Linked DNA regions of Homo sapiens. The protein of the gene in region 6 interacts with the protein of the main gene of each other region in a biochemical or structural test. Each region holds a gene or a part of one and is shown on either strand. Other genes may lie near its edges. The genes, in order: SHANK1, SNTG2, PDZK1, MAST2, ERBIN, ACOT8 and DLG3.

The links.
Region 1: the proteins of ACOT8 (region 6) and SHANK1 interact in a test that uses a peptide from one of them, tested with the Homo sapiens proteins (one large-scale study listed by IntAct).
Region 2: the proteins of ACOT8 (region 6) and SNTG2 interact in a test that uses a peptide from one of them, tested with the Homo sapiens proteins (one large-scale study listed by IntAct).
Region 3: the proteins of ACOT8 (region 6) and PDZK1 interact in a test that uses a peptide from one of them, tested with the Homo sapiens proteins (one large-scale study listed by IntAct).
Region 4: the proteins of ACOT8 (region 6) and MAST2 interact in a test that uses a peptide from one of them, tested with the Homo sapiens proteins (one large-scale study listed by IntAct).
Region 5: the proteins of ACOT8 (region 6) and ERBIN interact in a test that uses a peptide from one of them, tested with the Homo sapiens proteins (one large-scale study listed by IntAct).
Region 7: the proteins of ACOT8 (region 6) and DLG3 interact in a test that uses a peptide from one of them, tested with the Homo sapiens proteins (one large-scale study listed by IntAct).

Annotation. Positions count from the first base shown.
Region 1 is NC_000019.10:50,671,303-50,674,802, reverse strand, and holds part of SHANK1 (SH3 and multiple ankyrin repeat domains protein 1), read left to right. Parts: intron 1-2,688; coding exon 2,689-2,785; intron 2,786-3,500. UniProt on the Homo sapiens protein: Seems to be an adapter protein in the postsynaptic density (PSD) of excitatory synapses that interconnects receptors of the postsynaptic membrane including NMDA-type and metabotropic glutamate receptors via complexes with GKAP/PSD-95 and Homer, respectively, and the actin-based cytoskeleton.
Region 2 is NC_000002.12:1,237,349-1,240,848, reverse strand, and holds part of SNTG2 (gamma-2-syntrophin), read right to left. Parts: intron 2,962-3,500; coding exon 2,832-2,961; intron 1,112-2,831; coding exon 1,073-1,111; intron 1-1,072. UniProt on the Homo sapiens protein: Adapter protein that binds to and probably organizes the subcellular localization of a variety of proteins. May link various receptors to the actin cytoskeleton and the dystrophin glycoprotein complex.
Region 3 is NC_000001.11:145,686,869-145,690,368, forward strand, and holds part of PDZK1 (Na(+)/H(+) exchange regulatory cofactor NHE-RF3), read right to left. Parts: exon of another isoform or gene 3,241-3,500; coding exon of another isoform or gene 3,183-3,240; intron 1,156-3,182; coding exon of another isoform or gene 1,154-1,155; coding exon 944-1,153; intron 1-943. UniProt on the Homo sapiens protein: A scaffold protein that connects plasma membrane proteins and regulatory components, regulating their surface expression in epithelial cells apical domains.
Region 4 is NC_000001.11:45,806,612-45,810,111, reverse strand, and holds part of MAST2 (microtubule-associated serine/threonine-protein kinase 2), read right to left. Parts: intron 1-3,500. UniProt on the Homo sapiens protein: Appears to link the dystrophin/utrophin network with microtubule filaments via the syntrophins. Phosphorylation of DMD or UTRN may modulate their affinities for associated proteins. Functions in a multi-protein complex in spermatid maturation.
Region 5 is NC_000005.10:66,076,575-66,079,810, reverse strand, and holds part of ERBIN (erbin), read right to left. Parts: intron 2,937-3,236; coding exon 2,862-2,936; intron 1,389-2,861; coding exon 1,281-1,388; 3' UTR 1-1,280. UniProt on the Homo sapiens protein: Acts as an adapter for the receptor ERBB2, in epithelia. By binding the unphosphorylated 'Tyr-1248' of receptor ERBB2, it may contribute to stabilize this unphosphorylated state.
Region 6 is NC_000020.11:45,850,893-45,854,392, forward strand, and holds part of ACOT8 (acyl-coenzyme A thioesterase 8), read right to left. Parts: intron 3,062-3,500; exon of another isoform or gene 3,031-3,061; intron 1-3,030. UniProt on the Homo sapiens protein: Catalyzes the hydrolysis of acyl-CoAs into free fatty acids and coenzyme A (CoASH), regulating their respective intracellular levels. Displays no strong substrate specificity with respect to the carboxylic acid moiety of Acyl-CoAs.
Region 7 is NC_000023.11:70,489,835-70,493,334, reverse strand, and holds part of DLG3 (disks large homolog 3), read right to left. Parts: intron 1,229-3,500; coding exon 1,052-1,228; intron 815-1,051; coding exon 739-814; intron 1-738. UniProt on the Homo sapiens protein: Required for learning most likely through its role in synaptic plasticity following NMDA receptor signaling.

The DNA.
Region 1 (3,500 bases), on a different chromosome or scaffold from region 6:
GGCATGAGCCACCGTGCCCAGCAATTTTTGTAATTTTTATTTTTGTAGAGACAGAGTCTCCCTATGCTGCCCAGGCTGGTCTCAAATTCCTGGGGTCAAGCGATCCTCCCTAATGTTGAGATTTCAGGCATGAGCCACCACGTTGGCCTGAAATGTACAGTTGAATGGCTAGTGGCTGCTCTAGGGGGGCACTGCAGGCCTAAAGGAAGCGGGTAGCCGGGCCAGGGTGGAGGGCTAAGATAACAGAGCTTTCCCAAGCAGAGCCCAGAGCCCAGGGAAAGGATGCTCCATGCAGAGTCTCGGAAGTGAGAAGCGAGGGAACTGGGAATGGTTGTGAATGGCTGGAGGAAAGAGGCAGGAGGGGGTATAGTGGGAAGTGCAGGAAGTAAGGGTTCATCCCAAAGGTGCGAACTTCATTCCGAGAGGGCTCCCTTTCTCTGCACTTCTGGTCTCAAAGATGGAGAAGGGAGACACATGGGGTGACCTGGCAGAAGCTGGGGAGTCAGGGCCCCGAAGTGCCTGACCTTGGCTGATTCTCCCTGTTACTCATCTAACACTTGCTTGTAGAACAGCAGGCCCTATGCGGGGACCGGGGACTCAGTAGGAAAGGAGACTGATAAAGTCACTACCCTACCCTCAGGCAGGTTTCATAATGACTTCCATGAACCTTAGGCACTTTTGCCCTTCTGCATTAAAAAAAAAAAAAATAGGCCAACACGGTGGCTCATGCCTGTAATCTGAGAACTTTTGGGGAGGCCAAAGTGGGAGGATCGCTGGAGCCCAGGAATTTGAGATGAGCCTGGGCAACATAGCAAGAACTCGCCTCTGCAAAAAAATTTAAAAATTAACTGGATGTGATTGTGCCTGCCTATAGTCCCAGCTACTCAGAAGGTTGGGGTTGGGATCGCTTGGGCCCGGGAGGCCAAGGCTGCAGTGAGCCGTGTTAACGCCACTGCACTCCAGCCCTGTCTCAAAAAAAAAAAAAAAAGTTTAAATTTTATGACTTTGTTGCTGCAAAGACCGATATTATCCAGGGTACAATTTTCTCTTTTCTTTTTTTCTTTCACTTCTACTTTGAAAAGAAATGAAAACACTTCCCCTAAAAGCATCATGGGCCCTAGACACTGTAGGTGCGATGCCTGGGATACATCAGCCCCGCCTTCAGGGAGTTTCTAGGCTAGTGGAGGAAACAGACAGCAAGTAAACAAGATGGTTTCTGGGGAAGAGAGATGCTGTGAAGAAAATGGGACAGAGGGAAGTGCAGTCTGGGTAGGGGGCCGGGGAAGGTCTCGCCGAGGAGAACTTCGCGCTGAAAAGGAACTGTGACAATAAGAGGGAAAGCTGTTGCCGAGAGAACCAGGGCTCGCAGGTGTTCTCCAATGAGGGTAGACCTGGGGCTGACAGAGGAGAAGGAAGAGGTGGGGGTGGAGGTGGACCAAGGGAGCAAGTGGGAAATGGGGGCAGGGCTGGGTCCCGCCTGCAGGACCTGTCTTCGTGTGGGCTTCCCTAGAACGGGAGCCGGAGGTGGGGATTCCTGTACCAAGGGTTTGCTACGGGGGAACCTTCAGGGAGTGTGGGAGACTGGCTGGGGTTGTGGAAGGAAGTCAAGCAGACACGGTTCACGCTGGAGTGGGAACCCATGGGGTCAGGCTGGGCACCCCGGCTTTAGTGCTGCCTCGGGCCTCCGTATCCGTCCATCGTGGGCTGTGGGCTGCTCCAGGAAGCAGGGACACATAACGGACTGGGCGAGTCCAGGACTCTGAAGGAGGGTGATTCTTAAGGGCTGCAGGCAGGTGACCCTCCCAGCAGTGGGTGAGGGATGGGATGCTGCATCCAGGGGGAGGGCAGCTGCAGGGGCACCAGCAGTGCCTGCCATAGAGGGTCTTGTAGACCAGAGTTGGGAGTTTGGTCCCCTCTGATCTCCTCCTAACTGACATGGGATTTCAAGCAGGGGCAATAGCATGCTTTTTGAAAGATGCCTCTGACTCTTGTGTGGAAAACAGACTGGAACAGGGTGGGGGATCAAGGATGGCAGCAGGGAGATGAGGGAAGAGGCTGCTCCATCCCGGAGAACACTGGTGGGGACCTGGATGTGGGCAGTGGCTGGAGGAAGGAAGCAGATCAAGAGTCGATGGAAAATCTGCTTTCTTCTCCTTTCTTTCTCCTTCCTGCCCAGACTTGAGGCTTTTCATTCCCGCAGAATTCCCTTTCGCCTTCTTTTCTTTTTTTTTTTTTTTTTTTTTTTTTGAGACAGAGTCTGGCTCTGTCGCCCAGGCTGGAGTGCAGTGGTGTGATCTTGGCTCACTGTAGCCTCCACCTCTCCACCTCATGGGTTCAAGTGATTCTCAAGCCTCAGCCTCCCGAGTAGCTGGGATTACAGGCGCCTGCCACCATGCCTGGCTAATTTTTGTATTTTTAGTAGAGAGACGAGGTTTTGCCATGTTGGCCAGGCTGGTCTTGAACTCCTGACCTCAGGTGATCCTCCTGCCTCAGCCTCCCAAAGTGCTGGGATTACAGGCGTGAGCCACGTTGCCCGGCCTCCTTCCACCGTCTTCACACTGCTCTCCCTTACGGCAGGGGCTTAGGGAAGGAATGGGGGCAGCCGTATAGTGAAGCCACAAGCCTTTCTGCGCTGACTGATCTCTCTCTATCTTTTCTCTCTCTCCCCCTCTGACTGCCGCTCCAAAGTCGAGCTTCGATCCCCACCACCGTGCCCAGCCAAGTTACGAGCGTCCTTCTTTCCTGCCTCCAGGACCTGGGTTGATGCTCCGGCAAAAATCTATCGGTATGCCACCCAGAAGAAGAGATGTGGGGGCTGGGGGAGGCCAGGAACGTGACAGTTCAGGAAAAGCAAGCAGACTTGGAAATGTTCTGTGCTCCCAGAGAGACCATAGTTTCATCAAATTGGGTTAAGAGTTCAGGCTTTGGAAATGGGTGAACTTGGCCATGAATCCTGGCTCCCCTCCTTCCCAGCTGTGTGAACTGGGGCAGGTGGCTTGACTTCTCTGGGCCTCTGGCTCTACATCTGGAGAATGGGGATGCAGTGAGCTAAAGCCCCCGCTACAGCTTTCTGGTTGTTTCTCTTATACCCGATTCCATCCATTCATTCATTTTACAAGTGTTTACCAAGCGCTCCCCACATGCCAGGAATTGTTCTAGAATGGGGATACGTCAGCGAATAAAACAGACTAAAGGTTCCTGCCCTCATGGGCTTGCCTTATAGCAGGGGAAGACAGATAATGGATTATAAGGAAAATAAGCAAGAAAATTATCTAGTATGTTAGCAGTTGTACGTGCTATGGAAAACAAAAAAAAGAGTGGGCCGGGCGCAGCGGCTCACGCCTGTAATCCCAGCACTTTGGGAGGCCGAGGCAGGCAGATCACAAGGTCAGGAGATCGAGACCATCCTGGTTAACATGGTAAAATCCCATCTCTACTAAAAATACAAAAAATTAGCCGGGTGTGGTGGCGGGCACCTGTAGTCCCAGCTACTCAGGAGG
Region 2 (3,500 bases), on a different chromosome or scaffold from region 6:
AACAAAAATAGTTGATGGTAATTTTAGAATAATATTAAAAGAGATAAAAGTTAGAAGAACCATTTATTCTTAGTGTTTCTTTTCTAATGTAGAAATGTTGACTAGAGAGGTTTAATTTAAAACACAGCCCTATTTTCCCATTGTTTTAGTAAATATTTCATAGGCAGAGGACCTGCTCTTCTCAAGTCCTCCATCGTGAATTCAAATATTCTTGCTAAGCACTATTTAAAGTCTTTTGTGCGCTATTTAAAGCAAAGCGAACATGTTTTTCTCAGTTTTCTTAACTTGAGGCTATGATGCATGCTTCCTTACGCCCCTAAGAGATGTAACCAGAAAATGAATGAACTATAAATAACATACTCCCTTACATTACAAGTTAAATCATAAGTTTATTATAAAGGAAACAGAAGAATAACACAGTGGCTTAAAAACTGATTTGGCTGATATTGAAACAGCTTGATTACCATAGAGTTTTCCTAAGTACTCATAGACGTGGGAAGTGAGCAGAAAATCAGGCCTGAGGGTGGCTACAAAGGTAGCTATCCTGAATCCAGGACAACGTTAAGGGCTCTGGGCTCCAGGTGAACAAACTGCCTGGATTTGGGGATGACAGGATCCTACCCACTGGCAATAACACCCACTGGGCCAAAGCCCTCCTGAGAATGAAGCTTTCCTAGTAAGGATTTTATTTAAGAAAATAATATAATGCTTAAAATTTCAAATTACACAGGTGTGTCATCTCAAAGCCCTTCTCAGTTTAAACAATCATATCTAAATCATCATTTAAATCACGATTCTTTACAAAACATAACTGCCAATAGAGAAATAATCTATACACAGGAGATCAGAATGACCTATGCTATTCCCACAGAAAGAGCAGTTTTATAGAATTAACAGGCAGGGCAGAGACCACCAAATGCAGTCTGAAATGTGCTAATGTTTTCCTATCAACATTTTCAAATCAAATTTCAAAAAACCAGAGACTGCTTTTCGAGATGTGTTACATCATGAATCAGAAAATACAAACCCTACCTGATGTGTTACATCATGAAGCAGAAAATACAAACCCTACCTGGTCGGAAGGAGAGCAGCATTTGTTCGCCATCTTCATCTGTGGAGAGAAGGCAGAAGAGTCAGGGCCACAGCCACCAACACCAGGATGGCTCACCTGAGTGACAGCTGGAAGTCATCAGCCACGCTCTGTCCTGGGAAACAGGCCTCTTTAATGACATATTTCCTATCTGAAGACCTAGCCAGAGTCAATACAAACATGGCAGCAGTAGAAAACAACTTTACTAGCAGGCTTCAATTCCTCTTTTTCAAATATCAGCATTTATGTAAGTGAAGTTACACTTCAAGAGCAGGTGCTTAAATTCCAATATCTGAGAAAAGTGAGGAAATGATTTCTGCTCTACATAACCTTGTGAGAGTCAGTATTACTGTGATGGTAATTACGGTGATCACAGTTGATATTCTTTCTTTTATTTAGTTCTCCCAATGACCTATGGAGGTAGATGTTGTTTTCCAAAATTTCACCGAGGAAGTGGAGGTGCAGAATCATAATGTTCCCACAGCCCACAGCCACACAGCCGGGAGGCAGCTCAGAGTCCACATTTCTGTTCTGAAATATTGGGGTGTCTGACTTCTCTGCCCTGCCTATGAGGGCTGATTTGTGAAATGACAGAACTGAAGGGCGCTCCTCGTCACAAACATTTCTGCAAATATAAGTCAAGCACCATCCTTTCTTCCCTATTTATTGAGATAACTTTGGAATTTAAAGTGTTGCGTTTGAAAACTACAATGTTAGGAAGGTCCTGGTACTTCCTTCTCTGCTTGCAGAAAGGAAGCCCCTGAGGTCTTCACAGGAGAAATGTCACACATTGCTGCTTCCCCCAGTGTTAGGTTAACTTCTGTTTTGCAGCCACAGGAAGAAGGGAGGTTGCAAGGGAGACGTGAGGTGGTGGGCAGGGCAGGGGCAGGGCGGGTGCATCTGCAGGGCCGCAGGGTGGGCCACGCCTGGCCAGTCTGCAAGCTGGACCCAGCCTCTGCAGCCTCCAGGCTGCGAAGGAACAGAGCAGGGATCGAAGTGCAATTACAGGGCAACTCAGCTTAGAGGGAGCAAGGGCAGCAAGGCTGGTCCAGGGCCGCCTCCAGGCACGGCCAGTCCTGCCACAGTTGCCAGGGCTGCGGCCACGGCTCCATGTCCGAGTCCAGGCACCCATCACTCCAGGCAACGCCCGTGTCATCAAGTCTTCGTTCCCACCCCATCTCTTTTCATTTCTTTAATTTTTAAAATCCTGTTGACTTTTAATATCAAACATCACTTAAGGGGACAGAATACTTTTTCGTTTCTGGGGGACTGCAGTACAAATTTGAGAAGTAATGTTTTTGCTCAATTATGCCTTTTTCTAAATCTTCATAATGTTTGGGAGAATTATACTTTTAACTCAATTAGGTTTCCCCAACTCAAAATGTCACACTGTATCAATGCATTTGGGTAAAATATAAAATTATGACATATAACTATTTCTGTATATGTGTGTGGAGAGAAAGAGAGAGGAAGGGAGGGAGAGAGACAGAGGCAGACAGAGGGGAGGAGGAAGACAAAACCAGATGGGAAATTCTCAGCTGTTAGACATTGCCTTACTCTTTGATTTGGAAACATTCTGATGGCTTCATTTTTAATGTTTTTAGACATAGATTTGACACATTGAAACAAGTACATGATTTTCTGTTTCGGGTTAATCATAAATCATCAGAAACATGATGTCTCCATTATTTTTCATGCACGAATGAGCATCAGCAGAGACTCAGAAACACCGTGTGCTCACGTTCTGAAGTGTCAGCTCCCTGATGTTGGCTGAGACCGCCCGCAGCCAGTCGGTGCCATCCTGGGCTGTGTAAAACCGGAGGATCCCAGAGCTGACTCCGTCCAGGGCGAGCACCTCGAACGCATTCCACCTGGGGAGGGAGAGAGCTGTCCAGGAGGCCCCGCAGCGACGGGAGCGGGCCTGCCTCCGTGAGTTTCGAGGCTGATGCTCAGCAGGGCTCTACCCTGGACCCAGGACATGGGGCAACTGCACCACTTCCTCAGGCGCCTCAGTACAGTCAGCAGGCTCGCTGAGACCAAGACCAAACCCCGAATTCCCTTGGTAACAGGAGCTACTTCTAATTCGATGAAACATGAAAAGCACTTTGTCAAGGAAAGAACAGTGCTCCTGAAATTCTGGAGTTATTGTCTGCAGGATTCTTACTGGTTATTCTTTCGAAGACCCTTTGGATGGAGCACTTAAAGCTCCTGATGGGGTGAGGCTGGAGCAGCCCAGCACCCTCTGCACTCAGCATCCACCCTTCTCTAGGACCACCTGTGTGCTTCTGATTGACAGGGGAGCTTTGGGAGAACATAGTCCCCTTCCACTGCTCCATGACACTCCACTTGCTGAGAACTCAATCATGGCAAAGTATTAACAACCAACCGTCTCAAATTCAGTAGTTCTTCC
Region 3 (3,500 bases), on a different chromosome or scaffold from region 6:
GCCACCTCCATCCCTGCCCTCCCGAGATCCAGGTGCAGATTAGGCTGAGCTTCTGGCACTGCTGGAATATAGAGTGTGGTTCAACCCCAGCCCAGAGGGTTCTTACAAGACTGGTCCTTTCTAGAGAGGAGCGCTGCCCTAGATTGTAACCATTCCTCCCGTGTGCATGGGGACAGCACAGTGTAAGGAAAAGACCATGCTTTTGGAGTCAGGCAGAATAAGGTAAGGCCAGACTCTCCCATATATCCTCAGCAGGAACATGTTAGCAAGCTAAGATATCTGTACTTAGCTTCCTAATCTGTGAAATTGTAACATATACCTTATGAGGTCATGATGAGGACTTAACAAGATAATGAATATAAAATTGCTGGCCGAGCGTGGTGGCTCATGCCTGTAATCACTGCACTTTGGGAGGCCGAAGCGGGCGGATCACGAGGTCAGGAGATCGAGACCATCCTGGCTAACACGGTGAAACCCCATCTCTACTAAAAATACAAAAAAAAAAAAAAAGCTGGGTGTGGTGGCGGGTGCCTATAGTCCCAGCTACTTGGGAGGCTGAGGCAGGAGAATGGCATGAACCCGGGAGGTAGAGCTTGCAGTGAACCGAGATCGCACCACTGCACTCTAGCCTGGGTGAAAGAGCGAAACTCCATCTCAAAAAAAAAAAAAAAAAAAAAAATACCTAGCACCATTTTTGGTATATAGTGAACATGCAATTCATGTTAGACCTAACGCTATTCAAATCCAAGAGTAATGTGTACAGTTCTTGGTTCCTCATAGGGGACTTGATTGGCCAACACAAGGTACAGCAATAAAGGTGTCCTGCCTTGCCAGTGGCAGCCAGGAAAGAACCAAACTCTACCAACCCCCAAAATTATAATCAGCAGAGAAGATGTGGGGGCTGAAGAGATCCTGGAAGAAAAGCCCCAAATGTCTCATTCACCTGCATATGTTCTTCTTTGTCCACAAAGACACCATTGATCCTAAGAACTCTGTCTCCATCTTGAAGGCCAGCCTTCTCTGCTGGGCTACACTTCTCAACCACCCGGACCAGGTGGCCCTCGGTGTCCTTCTCAATTCGCAGGAAGAAGCCATAGTTTTGCCCTTCTTGCTTGGACAGTTTACATTCTCGGGGGTTGAAGGTGGAGGTCATTTCTGTGATGAAAAAAATAAATTAATAAAACCATGGAAAAGAGAATCTAATTGGAGTGAGAACCCCATCCTCCATCTCCTATAATTCTGTTCTTCCAATCACCAAATCTAGACTGCTTGGGTAGTAATGCTGGGGGCACAGGAGGACACCTTCCAGAACTTGCTAATGATTTCCAAATCTGTTTCCCCAAGGACAACCTTTTTACTAGAGTTTCAGACCCACGTATTTTTTACTGAGTACTGGACACAGATGCTTCCATTTCAGTATCTCCAACCAAACTCCTCTTTGTCCTCTGACCTAAAGAAATTAAGTCCAAATACATGACCCAAAAAATTTATGACAAGCCCACTCTCATTCAAACATTTGAAGAGCTTTTCAAGTTCAAGGAATCGAGGTTAAATCTGTAGACAAGATGGACCCATACCTTGCCTCTTCTATTGGGGAACATTATTACATTCCTATAACCACACGTGGTGAGTGTCATGCTGGGGAAGAATGCAGTGATAAGGGGGAAAATAACAAAGGGTCTTGGGAATAGGGAGCGGGATGGGAAGAACAAAGAACATTTCCTGAAGGAATGACACTTCCAAGAACTGAAGGATTAGTAGAAGCTTGGTGAGGTAGGACAGGACAAGGAAGAGCTTAAACCATTAAAAAAGGCAGGCACAGTGGCTCACCCCTGTATTCCCAGCACTTTGGGAGGCCGAGGCGGGCAGATCACAAGGTCAGGAGTTTGAGACCAGCCTGGCCAATATGGTGAAACCCCAGCTCTACTAAAATTACAAAAATTAGCCAGGCGTGGTGGCAGCCACCTGTTGTCCCAGCTATTCGGGAGGCTGAGGCAGGATAATTGCTTTAACCTGGGAGGTGGAGATTGCAGTGAGCCGAGATCACACTGCTGCACTCCAGCCTGGGCAATAGAGTGAGACTCTGCCTCAAAAAAAAAGGACACCAGGCCTTAGAGCTGGTCCAATATGTTGGAGATGCACTAGAAAAGGCTGTTCTGGCCCCTGAAGTCTCTAGCCACAGCAGAAAAGAGATGCTCGATAGAAAAGGGATTCCAGTGGCTAGGTTGGGGCTCTCCCTCCCAGACGCTTTGTCACCCAGGCTGCAGTGCAGTGGCGCAATCGCAGCTCACTGCAGCCTCGAATTCCTGGGCTTAGGCGATCCTCCCACCTCAGCCTCCTGAATAGCTGGAGCTACAGGCACATATCACTATGCCCTGCTAACTAATTTTTTTAGAGACAGTGTCTTGCTTTGTTGCCCAGGCTGGTCTCAAACTCCTGGGCTCAAGTGATCTTCATGCTTCAGGCTCCCAAAGTGCTGGAATTACAGAATGAGCCCCCATGCCTGGCCTGAAGCAGCTTCTATTTCCATTCATCCTGCCCCTCCTGTTGCCCCATTGCAGGGGCAAGGTCCTGAGCCATAGGAGGAAGACAGGACAAGTGTAAAACCGACAGCTAGGGCTCCGGCACACAGTTATTATTAAGGGTAAGACTTCTGCCAGTGCCCCGACACCTGCTGGCTGAAAGCTTTTTCTTTTATAGGAGAATAAGAACAGGGGCCAGAACAGCAAGAGGCTGATACAGAAGGCAGAAGGCTCACAACAGAGCACTGGAGTCTGCTCTTCACACCACCTGCAAGGCAAGCCCTCAAGTTCCTCTCATCACAGTTCCCTACCTACAAATCAGAATAAACCACCTATCCCTTCCCTCCTGGAGGGACAAGAACGGATGACCACACAGGATATGGGGGAGGGTGAAGAATAGGCCACAAAGTGCTCCAGGCACCCTAGAAGCCATGGCATGGTGATTGAAGATAGCCATCCCTGACCTTCATGCCCACAGAGACGTACAGTACAAATCAGACAGAGAGCCCCCAGCTGCCCAATACCAGGCCTCTCCTGCAGTCTCCGCAAAGTCTGAAGCCCCACGCCACCAGTGGCACGAGTGACTAAGTAGCGAAGAAAGAAGCAAACAAATAGACTCCCCATCGAGCATTGAGGCAAGAAAACAGCAAAGCCACTCACCAGTGGTCAACACCAGCACCTTGGGAGAGCTAGGCAGCTCTGCCTTATCAAAAGCCATGACCAGCTGCCAGGAAAACACCACTCTGGGATGAAAGGAGAAAATATGGCATCACCAGAGTTGAGTCACATCCAGGCACCTGTTTGTGGCCCATTCCAGCTCCCTCACCTTTCACTCCTCTTTCTGCTGATCCCAACCTGCGAGCATCAGTTCAGTTTCAGCTTGAGTTCACATCTATGTCCAAGCTCACCTGTAGATCCCTACACCTTTCCATTTCATAGGGCCAAAAGACCCCAAAAGAAAAAAAATCAGAAAAGAAA
Region 4 (3,500 bases), on a different chromosome or scaffold from region 6:
CTATTGTGAGCAAAGCCTTTAGCTCTGCATTGTTAGACAAAATGATGACATAGTTCTTACCTTCAATAACATGCAACTTAAAAGCAAAAATGAAATACAAATGAACACAGAAAGTTGAAAGTGCTAAAACACTGATTCATCCTTTCATTCAGCAAATATTTATTCAGCATCTACTTTATATGACCAGGAATGGATCAAACAATATGTTACAGAAACAAAATGAGATAAGACTACTTATTAAGCACCTACTTATTATGTGCTTTCCAGTCATTTTTGCATTTGATCTCTTGGAACCTAAGCTTTCACTTTTAAACCACAGAATTTTGAGAACTGGAATTTCAGGACATTCACAGATTTCCTGAAGCCCAATTAAGGATCCTCCTAGGATCCCATGTGGAAAAACAACTTTGCAGAAGAGTTTCTTTTTGGGTGTGTGGTTTTGTTTTTGTTTTTTGTTTGTTTGTTTTTTGCTTTCTTTACGAGACACGGTCTCATTCTGTCACCCAGACTGGAGTGCAGTGGTACAACCTTGGCTCACTGCAGCCTCAACTTCCAGGGGTCCCACCTCAGCCTCCCAAGTAGCTGGGCCCACAGGCGCGCACCACCAACCCCGACTAATTTTTGTATTTTTTGTAGAGATGGGGTTTCACCATGTTGCTCAGTCTGGTCTCAAACTCCTGAGCTCAAGCAACCCGCCTGCTCAACCTCCCAAAGTGCTGGGATTACAAGTATGAGCCACCACACCTGGCCTCACAGAAGTTTCTGTGGCATTTGAGTTAGGCCTGGAAAACTGAGTAGAATTTTAATATGCGGAAGCAGAGAATAAAGAGCTTCTCAAACTGATGACTAATTAAAGTATATCAAAGTGCCTAACAATAAACAATTACTTACTGAATGTCTATTACATACCAGTTAAAATACTAGAGGCTGAAGATACCATGATGATTAAGACAGCCTCAGAGGAATTCATTTGACTGACTTACAATCAATTAGGACATTGAGCAAATATCTATGTTTCTAATAAATACACAAATAACTATGTTTCAAGTACTATACTAAGCCCTAGGTATACAGAAGTAAATGGAACAGTCTGACTCTCAAAGAACTTACTAATGAGAGAAACAAGATAATTTTAATATTGTATGCCATGATCGAGAAAAGCAGACGGTCCTAAGGAACCAAGAGAAGTGGCAACTAACTGACTCTTCTAACAAAAAGTGCTAAGTATCAAGTAGATCTTGAATGCCAAGGTCTTCAGGCTTAATTCTATGGGTAATAAGAAGCTAATGAAGGTATATGAATAAGGAGAAATGAAATGAACATTTAACGAGTATTTATAAAGCACTTACCATTAGCCAGGGAGGCAATGAGTTCCAATCTTTTGTTAATAGAACGTGAAATATATTAGAGGTTAAGAGACTGAAGACTGAGTAAATACAGTTAAGATACTGCAACAACCAAGACTAAAGTTTATAAATATGAAATTAAGGTAGTGACAATGGGAATAATGGTTTGAAAGATTTCATGAAGGCAGAATCGAGAGAACCTAATGCCAGACTGGCTAAGGGAGTCAAAGGAGAAGAAGTAAAAGACTACAGATGTGGGCCAGGCACGGTGGCTCACGCCTGTAATCCTAATACTTTGGGAGGCCAAGGCGGGTGGATTGCCTGAGCTCAGGAGTTCGAGACCAGCCTGGGCAACACAGTGAAACCCCATCTCTACTAAATACAAAAAATTAGCCAGGCATGCGCTACTCAGGAGGCTGAGACAGGAGAAACGCTTGAACCTGGGAGGCAGAGGTTACAATAAGCCGAGATCGCGCCACTGCACTCCAGCCTGGGCGACAGAGCAAGACTCCATCTCAAAATAAAACAAACAAAAAAAGCCATGGATATAATTTCATGTTGGATGACAAAAAGGAAAGATACAGAGAGAAGCACATTTCAACACAGAAATTATTCTATTTTCATGATACAGTAAACCACTGACCTTCTGGAGATCCAAGTCCTACATCCTGATTAGAACGTATTCTTAAATACTAGTATAATAAAAACTGTAACAAGCACTGTTCCATGTCATGAGAAAGGGAAAAAAAAGTTACGTGTGAGATGTAGATGCTTGCTGATCAGCTGGGCTCTTACTACCCAAATAAATAGAATTCAACCAGTCTCGACACATACAATGAAAATTTTGGCCTTTTTAAAATCATAAATTATTACAAATTATGAACTTTCAAGGTCACTATCAAATTATAAAACTCACAAATGTTAGGCCGGGCACAGTGGCTCACACCTGTAATCCCAGCACTTTGGGAGGCCGAGGTGGGTGGATCACCTGAGGTCAGGAGTTCGAGATCAGCCTGGCCAACATGGTGAAACCCCGTCTCTACTAAAAATACAAAAATTAGCCAGGCGTGGTGGCGGACGCCTGCAATCCCAGCTACTGGGGAGGCTGAAGCTGGAGAATCACTTGAGCCTGGGAGGCGAAGGTTGCAGTGAGCTGAGGTCCCACCACTGCACTCCAGCCTGGGCAACAAAGTGAGACCCTGTCTCAAAAAAAAAAAAAAATCACAAATGTTAAGAACACAAATGATGAGTCTACGGTGGAAATGTTAAGCACAAAAATGGAAATGTAGAGCTAAGGAAAGAGGTCACACCTAAAGAGACTCAGCTCACTTTACAAGGATGTTCTGTGACACAATGCCATAAATAAAGAGGACTGCAGACCCTTGTTCTACATCCTCAACATCTACAAACAGAATGAGCCTGCTAAATAGAGCACAATAAAGGATCAAGCTAAGGACAGAGGACATGTCCTCAAGGAACATTTCAGGAACAGGAAGAGAAAACACAAGACAAAGACACACAAGAGAGCAGTTAGAGAAGCAGTAACAGAATGGATATTATAATATTAAAAAAGAAAAAAATGTCAACAAGGAACACACAGTCAACAGTGACAAATAGTTCACAGAGGTCAGACAAGATGAGGAAAAGACTATCAGATTTAGTAATTTAAAGGTTCCCAGGACTTTTACATATTTCTCTCTGTAACTATTTCACAATGAAAACTTTTCACAAGTAGCCATGAATTATATTTCAATTTGAAAAACAAACTGGGCACTCATGCCCATAATCCCAGCACTTTGGGAGGTCAAGGTGGGAGAATCACTTGAGCCCAGGAGTTCGAGGCTAGCCTGAGCAACATGGTAAGATACCACCTCTACAAAAAATAAAAAATTAGGCCGTGGTAGTTCACGCCTGTAATCCCAGCACTTTGGGAGGCCAAGGCGGGCAGATCATCTGAGGTTAGGAGCTCGTGACTAGCCTGGCCAACATGGTGAAACCCCATCTCCACTAAAAATAGAGAATTAGCCAGGCATGGTGGTGCATGCCTGTAATCCCAGCTACTCGGGAGGCTGAGGCAAGAGAATCGCTTGAATCCGGGAGGCAGAGGTTGCAGTGAGCTGAGAATGTGCCGCTGCACTCCAGCCTGGGCGAGAG
Region 5 (3,236 bases), on a different chromosome or scaffold from region 6:
TAAAACACTATTACACTGATACACATAGAAACCCTTTAAAGACTCTGGAAGTGTTGAGTTCACATTTAATGTTACCTGTAGAAACAGCCCTTTATTTGAACACCTTTACACACTGGCAGGCCTCAAGGACCCATCCCTTTGCTCTATAACTCTCCACAGCAATTCTCTATCACTGTGCCAGTTTCACAAAGCTTGCTTTGGTTTCCTAGCTCCAAGTGTACTGTTTCCTTTTACTTTACCAAGGCAATGCAAGGCCAAACAAAAATCAAAGAGGCTTTCCTAAACCTTCGTAACATTTTGTGTTACAGGCAACACAATCTTAAAACTGGCCATTTTTGTTTCATTTGCTGCTTAAAATAAAAATTATAAATTAGATTTAAATGGAGCACTAATTATAAAACAGATTGCAAGTACCACCATTTGAAAAAAAAAAAAAAATCAGTGGATTTCCATAACACAGAAAATGCATGGACATGCATCTACAGTAGAGTTAAAAATTTCCTGTGACTAAAAAATTAAAAACTGAATCACCAGTAGCAAATGTATAGTCAATGGCTATGACAAGAACAGATCCTGCCGAGCTCATAAATGCAATTATTGTCTTTTTTGCTTTATAAAAAAGACATTACATATTTTATTGCATTATTCTCCTAATAAAAACATACTACCACGTAGCTCTCCCCATCCCCATTCTTTGCTTCCAGATTTTTATAGAAAATAACTGTTTTAGTCTGGCCTTGGAAAGTGAACCCACCAGCACCACCTTCACCTACTCACTCTTCAATTCAATATGCACATAGCAAAAGCCAACACTTCAAATCTCTTGCCCACATCAAAAAAAGTAGTTTCAGGAGAAAAACATTAATACCAGTTGAATAAAAATAAGGGCATAAAAGCTATGAGAGAGATAGCTCTGCCATCTGTCTCTGGGCTAAAATCAAGGCTAACTATTGCCTTGCACACAGTTCAGTCATGTATATGAAATCCAAAAATAAACCTACAATCTATACAAAAACAACACAGGTTTGTTTTTGTAGCCTTGATTGCTATGTTTAAAAACCTAACAAGTTTTATATGGTATGAATTCAACAGTCTCCTTTATATTCTGTACAGTGGTTCTTTCCCTCTAACCACAAGTTCCATTATTTCATTAATGTACAAATTTGAACATAATTTTTTGAGTTCTTCTTTATATATAAAAATAGTCAAAATATTAATTTCCCCTGTAAGTATCTTCCAATAAATCTTGCTGTCTTCCCCGCTTTTTTTGTCCACAGTGCTTATGAGGAAACTTCTCGTACAATGATGAGTTCAACTGTATTCTGGAAAGTTTTTAGCAAGGACACTGCTTGTCCATGTTCAATATTTATAAAACTGTAGCCATTAGCCTAGAAGAGGAAAAATGCTTTTAGGAAAAACATTTTATAGTTATTTATTTGCATTTCTGCCAAGTAGTTCACAAACTTGGAAGAAAATAAGAATCACTTTGGCAACTTAAAATAACATACAGATTCACAGGCCCTACCCAAACCAAGGAATAAAGTCTCTGAAGATGGGGTCTAAAAATGTGTATTTTGTCCAACTTCTCAGCCAATTCTTATGTAGCAGCCCAATGTTAGAAATCACTTACTTAAGAAATAATGTCAGACATGGTGTCGTATAATGCTAATGTGTATCTGAGGTGACCAAACTGTAGCGTAGCAGGGGGCAAGGGCTACTCTTCCCATTGTCTTGGAGCCATCACATCAAGACCACCATATTTCTTACAATTAAGCTTAATATTTACTGAGGTTCTACTGTGTACCAAACACACAATTCTAAGGGTGTAATATGAATTAGATCCTTTGATTCTCATAATGCTCAAAAAAGATTCTTTCACTATCTTATTTTAGAGAAGAGAAAGCCCAGGCATGGAGAGGCAAAGTAACTTGCTCAGTCACAAATTGAAACCCAAATGGTTCAGAAAAATAAATGTGTATAACTGTATGAGTGAGTGTGACTGTGTGTGTGTGTGTATGTGTGTGTGTGTGTGTGTGTGTGTGTGTGTGTGTAGAGGGAGGGAGGGAGAAAAAGAGAAGAAAGAGGAGAATAAATGATAAAGACAATGTAGCAAATTATGAACGACTGGTGACCAATTGATGTAATACTGGTGTTTGTTGTAGTATTTTTGTGGCTTTTTTCTAAGCTTAAAATTATTCAAAAAAAATTTTTTTTAATTAGTTTTATTTTTAGAAAGTGTTGGGACCAGAATTTAAACTCAGGCAGTCTGGCTTTCAGAATCTGTACTTTCAGCTATTAGACATTAATGTCTCTCTCTCCCTTTTTTTTTGGTTTGAGGATTATTTTTTAAGTTCTTTAGTTCTCAGCTAAGAACGGTGACAGTAGGGGTAGAAAATGAGAGCTATACTTGTGTCCTAGGTTTGTCTTCCTTCTAAGACTGTAAGTGTTTAGGTAAAATGAGTAGCTGAATGAACAAAGAAAAGGAGGGGACAGGAAAAAATGAGTTTCGCAGATTTAAAATTTTTCTTCTCCATTTCTGAAAGGACAATAGCCCACATCCAAGAAGTGGTACTCTAATCCCCCTCAAATTAGTAAAAATTAACATTCCTGAGCTTAAACAAAATCCTATGATGTATCAAACTTTTTTTTTTTTTTTTTTTGAGACAGAGTCTCGCTCTGTCGCCCAGGCTGGAGTACAGTGGCGCGATCTCGGCTCGCTGCAAGTGCCGCCTCCCGGGTTCACGCCATTCTCCTGCCTCAGCCTCCCACCCACAATTTTCAAAGTTAAAGTGAAAACATTTTAAACTGTGAAAACATTAGAGTGTTATAAAATGAAAAAAAAAAAGATTTATTTTAATTACCTGAATAATTTTATCACCTGGCTGCAGTAATTTTGATGCTGGTCCTTCAGGTTGTACCCTTGTTACAAATATACCCTTTAACAACAAAAAAAATTATTTAACTAAAAACAGTATGTATAAATAACAGAGTACCAAGGAGCAATTTTTCCTCCACACCATGCAAATATTTGAATCATGGTACAAGTTTTCTCCCTGACTTCTCTGAGTAATACTGTAACAAACTAGTTATTTTTACCTCTAGTAATTCTGACTTTAGTGATTTCTCTTGAGAGTAATAAAATTACTTTTATAGGTGTGTGAAAAAGCAATAAGAAAGTTAAAAATCATTTCATTATATCATAAACATTCATAGTTTTTGGTTAAATTGTTTTAACT
Region 6 (3,500 bases):
AAGGCACTGGCCAGGGATAAGGCAGCCAACAACAAGCAGGTGAGGGAAGATTTGGAGAGGAAGAGAACTTCCCTGGTTTCCCTGAAGTTCTCACTTTGTCTGAGTCAGGCTGACCTTGAGGAACCCTGACATCTGGGCCATGAGACATCTTGGGGATGACTTTCAACCTTCAGATGAAAGAAGCAGGTCTAGAGAAGTGTTGCTTCCTTCACTCTGATCCAAATGGGGAGTCAACCAGGCACCAGGGCTCAATCAACAGCAATAAACATCACTGTCTGAGGTCAACTGGCTTGCTCAGCTCTCTGTTATCAGGCACTGCCACCAGCAGCACTTCTATCAGAGTGCGAGCTCCTCAAGGTTAAAGGCATTTGAGAAGGGCTTACCAAGAGTCCAGACACTAGACAAAGTTACTTGTGCAGTCTGCTTTCAGACACTGGGAATGAAGTCTTCCTCCCTACCACCAAACTTGGGGGGAAAAAACAAAAAAAAACCTCTAATCCAATCCTTGGTCTGCAGGTAAGCTAAAGTGCAGATTCCTGAGGAGGATCACAGAAACTTCAGTACTCTGGTCTACCTTTCAGTGTGAATGAGTTCCAGCCCTATTCTTGAAAATTGTTATTGGAACAGAGCAGGTAGGCCCTGAGGCATATTGAAGGGAGTTAATGATTATGGAGTGATGCAGGGTGCCTGACAGCATTGGACAGGAGGGTATGTTTTCTCATGTTGGTCTCACAATAACTATGTAGAGCCACTCTTACCCCCATTGTACAGATGAGGAAACTGTTGCCTTAAAATACAATTTTTTTGTAATAAAGTCATGCTAATTTGTTTACATATTGTCTATAGTTGCTTTCACTGGCAAAACCTAAAATGTTTACTATCTGGCCCTTTCTAGAATGTTTGCTGACCTTGTTCTGAATTCTTCAAGCTCTAAATTTACCTCTGTAGAGAAAAACTAAAAACAAAACAAAAACCCAACTAATTCACATTCTTTCCTGGGCTTTTAGAAAAAGAACTGATTTGATAAATGGCCAAGGACCAACCCTCCCCCTCCCCCATAACATCTTTTATTTTTAAAATGTAATTGAAACATCTCTTTTTTGTTTTGTTTTTTTGAGATGGAGTCTCGATCTGTCGCCCAGGTGGGAGTGCAGTGGCGCAGTTTTAGCTCACTGCGACCTCCAGCCGCCGGGTTCAAGCAATTCTCCTTGCCTCAGCCTCAGCCTCAGCCTCCCGAGTAGCTGGGATCACGGGCTAAGGTCACCACGCCCAGCTAATTTTCCTTTTTTTTTTTAGATGGAGTCTTGCTCTGTCACCCAGGCTGGAGTACAGTAGCACGATCTCAGCTCACTGCAACCTCCACCTCCAGGGTTCAAGCGATTCTCCTGACTCAGCCTCCTGAGTAGCTAGGACTACAGGTGTGCACCACCACACCTGGCTAATTTTTGTGTGTGTTTTTTTTTTTTAGTAGAGATGGAGTTTCGCCACATTGTCCAGGCTGGTCTCGAACTCTTGACCTCAGCCGATCTGCCCGCCTCGGCCTCCCAAAGTCCTGGGATTACAGGCATAAGCCACATGCCCAGCCAAAAAACAGCATTGGTTTTAATATCTGATATAGCTGGCAGAGTCACACCACAAACAGATAAGAGCTCTCCCCTTTTTGCCTTGCAGCCAGGAAGCTCAGAACTAAACCTTGTATGAAACTGCAACAATATGGCTTAGCCAAATTTTTTGACATGATCGCTTCTCCCAAATCCCATTACTACTGGCCTAATGTCCTTTGACTTTTAATATTCCCATAATAACTACCAATTATTTTAGCTATCTTGCAGCCTTTCAAGACACAAGCAAGGGCACAAATAATTATTTTTATTTATTTATTTATTTTTGATGGAGACAAGAGTCTCGCTCTGTCGCCCAGGCTGGAGTACAGTAGCATGATCTCAGCTCACTGCAACCTCCGCCTCCTGAGTTCAAGCAATTCTCCTACCTCAGCCTCCTGAGTAGCTGGGACTACAGGCACATGCCGCCATGCCTGGCTAATTTTTAGTATTTTAGTAGAGACTGGGTTTCACCATGTTGCCCAGGCTGGTCTCGAACTCCTGAGCTCAGGTGATCCGCCCGCCTCGGCTTCCCAAAGTGCTAGGATTACAGGCATGAGCCACCACGCCCGGCCAAATAATTATTTATTTTGAAATGGTGGCTTGGACACAGCTCATTTCACGCTGCTCCTGGATGAAGACTTTCCAAGAAAGAGGATCTTTTCCCCAGAACCTGGGATGGGTACCCTGGCAGCTCTCTCATTGTTTAGAATTATTGCCCAAGAGCGAAGCAAAGAAGCAGGAAAGAGTTTGGCACTCAAAGACACATAAACCAGGTTCAAATCCTGGCTCTGCCTCCTTGGGCACTGTGGGAGCTGGTTCCAAACCTCTTCAGGTCCCAGTTTCCTTAGGTAAGAATGATGGCAGGAATGCCTGCCACCCATGTTTACTTATGAAGACTAAACAAGATAATGCACACAACTATGCTCTGTATCATGCAAATTTTAATTATTCCCATAAGTTAATCATCAAAAACTAATAATATTTATGGAAAACTAGATTATGCCAAGCCCTGCACTAGATACTTTACTGGCAAAGACTCATTGAATTCTTCCATCACAGGATGAAGAGATTCAGAGTTCAAGTAATGCCCCCACCCACACAAAAGAAAACAGCCAGGTATTTCACTAGGCTGGAAGGATTACAATATCAAAAGGCTGGTACTTACAAACAAATTAAAGAAACAAAGCACATATTTACTCCCAACTAGCATAAAGATAAGAACCTGGCTGAGCCCAAGGTAAGTATTCAAATACTTTATAGCAGTGACTGGGGGCCGAGAAGAGGGGGGCCAATCAATACTCCTCAGGGATGAGGAGTAAGAGACACGGGACAGTATGAAAAAGTGTATTTACCATTACAGGGATAACTTTCATATTTACAAAATGAAGGGGGAAACCCCATGGTTTTCTTAATACAAATCACATACTGTAAAGGTCCACAAACTCTTCTCAGCTGGGGATCTACGCAGAACACATGAGGGCATCTGCTCTGGGGGTAACAGGGAAGGAAAGAAAACAGTGAGGGTTTTTTTTGTTTGTTTTTTAGCATAGGTTTTGCTTTTATTTTCCTTTTATTTATTTTTTTGTAGAGACAAGGTCTCGATTTATTGCCCTGGCTGGTCTTGAATTCCTGGGTTCCAACAATTCTCCGCATTGGCCTCCCAATGTGCGGGGATTATAGGCATGAGCCACCACACATAGGTTTTTTGTTTTTGAGACAGAGTCTCGCTCTGTTGCCCAGGCTGGAGTGCTCGCCCAGGCTGGAGTGCAGTGGCACGATCTTGGCTCACTGCAAGCTCCGCCTTCCGGGTTCACACCATTCTCCTGCCTCAGCCTCCCGAGTAGCTGGGACTACAGGCACCCACCACCACACCTGGCTAATTTTTTTATATTTTTA
Region 7 (3,500 bases), on a different chromosome or scaffold from region 6:
AAAAAAAACAGAACAATGGATTTTAAAGCATGCAAGAAAAACTAAAATGGAGACAACGGTGAGCTAAATAAAAGACCATCTCTCACAAATGGAGTCTATGAGATTAAATGAAAGTTGATGTAAGAGGAAAATTATGTTTACAAGAAAATGTTGTAGGGATGTTAGAAGTTTCTACATAATCCAGACACTCATAACACTCACTGGTACTTCCTAAAGAACAAAGGTCACTGTAGCCTCCTGGACACATGCCCTAAGGTACCACTGATATACACATCTACTCCACGTCTCTCTTCCCTCTACTGCTCCAGAAGTTCTTTGGCCTGTGAAGCTCATAGAAAAAAAGGGGTGAATGGAGAACCCGCCTGCCTCAGGTGGTCTGAAGGGAGGTGGGAGCTCTGGAGCTGGGCTTCTTGGCCGGATGCTCTGACAGGATCTATAGCCAGGGAGACACCCACGAGTGGTTTCATTTTCCCCAAGCAAGTCAGCCTTCCAGACAGTCCAACTCTAACACATCTTCAAGAGCCGGTACCCAGGGGAAAGGAGCACAGACTGGCTGTGAACTTTAAGAGCTCCCTCTCTGCTTTCTGAAAAGCAGTCAATGTTCTGATAGGACAGAGCCAGCCCCCTGAAAAAGAGATTTTCTTTTGTGTTCCCCAGTTCTCCTACACATCAGACTAAACTCCAGGCTTCTCAACCCTCTTTACCTACTGGCTGATTTCCTTGGGGATCCCCACTTACCCTGTTAGACTCAATCATCCCCGTCCTGGCATGGAACTTCACAGTTTTCAATCGAGCTCTTTCTTTCTTTTCCACCCTGTTTTGGAATCAGAAAGAAGTCCTGTTACTGCCAGTAAATGGTCTCAGCAGTGGGTTGCAGCAGGCACAGCAGCCATTTTTTTGGCTCACTGAGTAAAAACCATGTTGAGTACCGACTCTACCAAAAAGGAATCAAGGCACAAACGTTGCTCTCAAGCAACTTCTAATAGGAAAACAAGAAAGAAATACCAGCAAGAGGGCAGGAAAGGCCTTGCTCATGATCATGACGACTCACCTCTTCTTACTGGGGATCACACCGATCTGCTCACTTTCTCCGTGTGGGGTCACCAGCCTTGCCTGCCACCACTCATCATCAGAGGCATTAATGACATGCAGAATGTCACCATAAGAGAAGCTGAGCCCCTGGCTTGGCAGGCAGCTGTCCCGAGTCCGATCATAATCAAACAGGGCCCTGAAAGGCACAGTGAAAGATGAAGTGATCATCCAACCCTAAATGCCAAGACACTGGCACCTTGAAAAGATGGAAGGCCAACCCAAACAGCACAGACATAGCAGCCTCACAGTATACTAGAAGGATGTCTCCAGGAGACCACATCCTTCTTTCTGAGCCAAAGTGGTAAATATGCACCCGCTTTCAAAGAAACATCTCATTCTCCCAATAAGAAGCATAAGAGAAAATATTTTACAAACCCCATCTCCTCTTGGCTTCTGGATGCAAGATAAAAGTCCAAAGTAGAACTCGCTCAATAGCCCTCTCCCTCACCCACATCCTAGGAAACTAGCTCTAGCAGGGCGCTTTCTCAGTTCACAAACATATCTTCAAAAAGTAGCTAAAGAGAGGACAAAAAATGTTAACTACAATCCCAAACAATGACTGGTAAACACTCCTGAAGCACTAAAGAAAGGGCCCTATGTCCTCGGGCAGCCAAAGAAAAAGCACAGAATGGTAGGGTTGAAAAGACCAATGGGACCATAGAAGTCACCTAGTGCGGTCTCTTTCTCTTACATATGGGGAAACAGAGGTTCAGGGAGGAAAAAATAGTTTGACCTAGGTCATACATCTAACCAACCTGGGACAAAACCCAGGTCTTCTGACAAGACATGCTGTTGTGACATGCTATAAATGATGCAGAGTAAAGAAATAAAAGGGAAGGTGGGAGAAGGTGGGGAGGGAGCTATACAATCCAGGCTTATGGAAAAGGACACCAGCTTGGCTGATGCTAGAAGTCCTAGGAAATGGTATTGGAAATAAAGGTCTGAAGCAAATTTTGGAAGCCCTTGAATAGACAAGATCTAGTGGCCCCTGGAAATCTGAGAGGAGTGACACATCAAAAGAGCCTTAGGAGGTCGGGCGCAGAGGCTCACGCCTGTAATCCCAGCACTTTGGGAGGCTGAGGCGGGTGGATCACCTGAGGTCAGGAGTTCAAGAGCAGCCTGGCCAATATGGTGAAACCCCATCTCTACTAAAACTACAAAAATTAGCTGGGTGTGATGTTGCATGCCTGCAGTCCCAGCTACTCGGGAGGCTGAGGCAGGAGAATCACTTGAACTTGAGAGGTGGAGGTTACAGTGAGCCAAGATTACGACACTGCACCCCAGCCTAAGCGACAGAGCAAGACTCTGTCTCAAAAAAAAAAAGCCAAAAAAAAAGTTTCTACTTTTCACATCCAGTGGAACCTGTCTTCATATGGAGTCACCACAAATGGGTGATTTCAGTGAGAAGTTTGTATTTTTCTACCTGCAATCTAGGCTGTCTTCTTCATATTCTCTGTTAATAAGGTGTTTTCACACCTTTGCACACACAGCCCAAAATCTAGTTCCAAGACTTTGACTTCTACCTGCAATACTGTGGCCTTTGGCTCAGTTGGAAGCTGCAAGTAAAACACACTATCTTACCATATGCAAGCCCAAATGAGATAGGATGTAGTAAAACCATGAAGAGTGAAATACTCACCTACTGCTTACAGCTCTTGAAACAGAGTTCTTAAAAATCAGCGTCAGATGATTTGAAAATGAAAATACCCAAACTCTAACAAAAAGCCCTTTTTTCCCCTCAATTTACACACTCAAAGCAGTAAGGAGAATGGCAGAGGCAGCAGACAAGGAGGTGCTGTCCGAGAGGTGCATTCCGGGCTATGTGTGACAGAATCAAAACTGAATGCATTCTCACTGCCTGAGTCCTGCATTTCCTAAAGCAAGGAAGACATTCTGTCAGCCACTCCTACTAAGAAGAGCATCATGAAGCAACCTCATTCTCAGTGACAATGAGAAACACTGGATGTCATTATGGGTTTCAAAGATTAGAACAAATATAGTAAGGAAAAGAACAGAACTTGAATTAAGCACAAATTAGTTTGGTGAGAGAAGGAAGGAAGATGTTAAAATGAATTTAGGAGGCCGGGCGCGGTGGCTCACGTCTGTAATCCTAACAATTTGGGAGGCTGAGGCAGGCAGATCACTTGAGGTCAGGAGTTCGAGACCAGCCTGGCCAACATGGCAAAACCCCGTCTCTGCTAAAAATACAAAAATTGGCCGGGCATGGTAGCGGGCACCTGTAATTTCAGCTACTCGGGAGGCTGAGGCAGGAGAATTGCTTCAACCTGGGAGGCAGAGGTTGCAGTGAGCCGAGATTGCGCCACTGCACTCCAGCCTGGGTGACAGAGCGAGACTCTGTCTAAAAAATAAATAATAAATAAATAAAATAAAATGAATTAGGGGAGTTA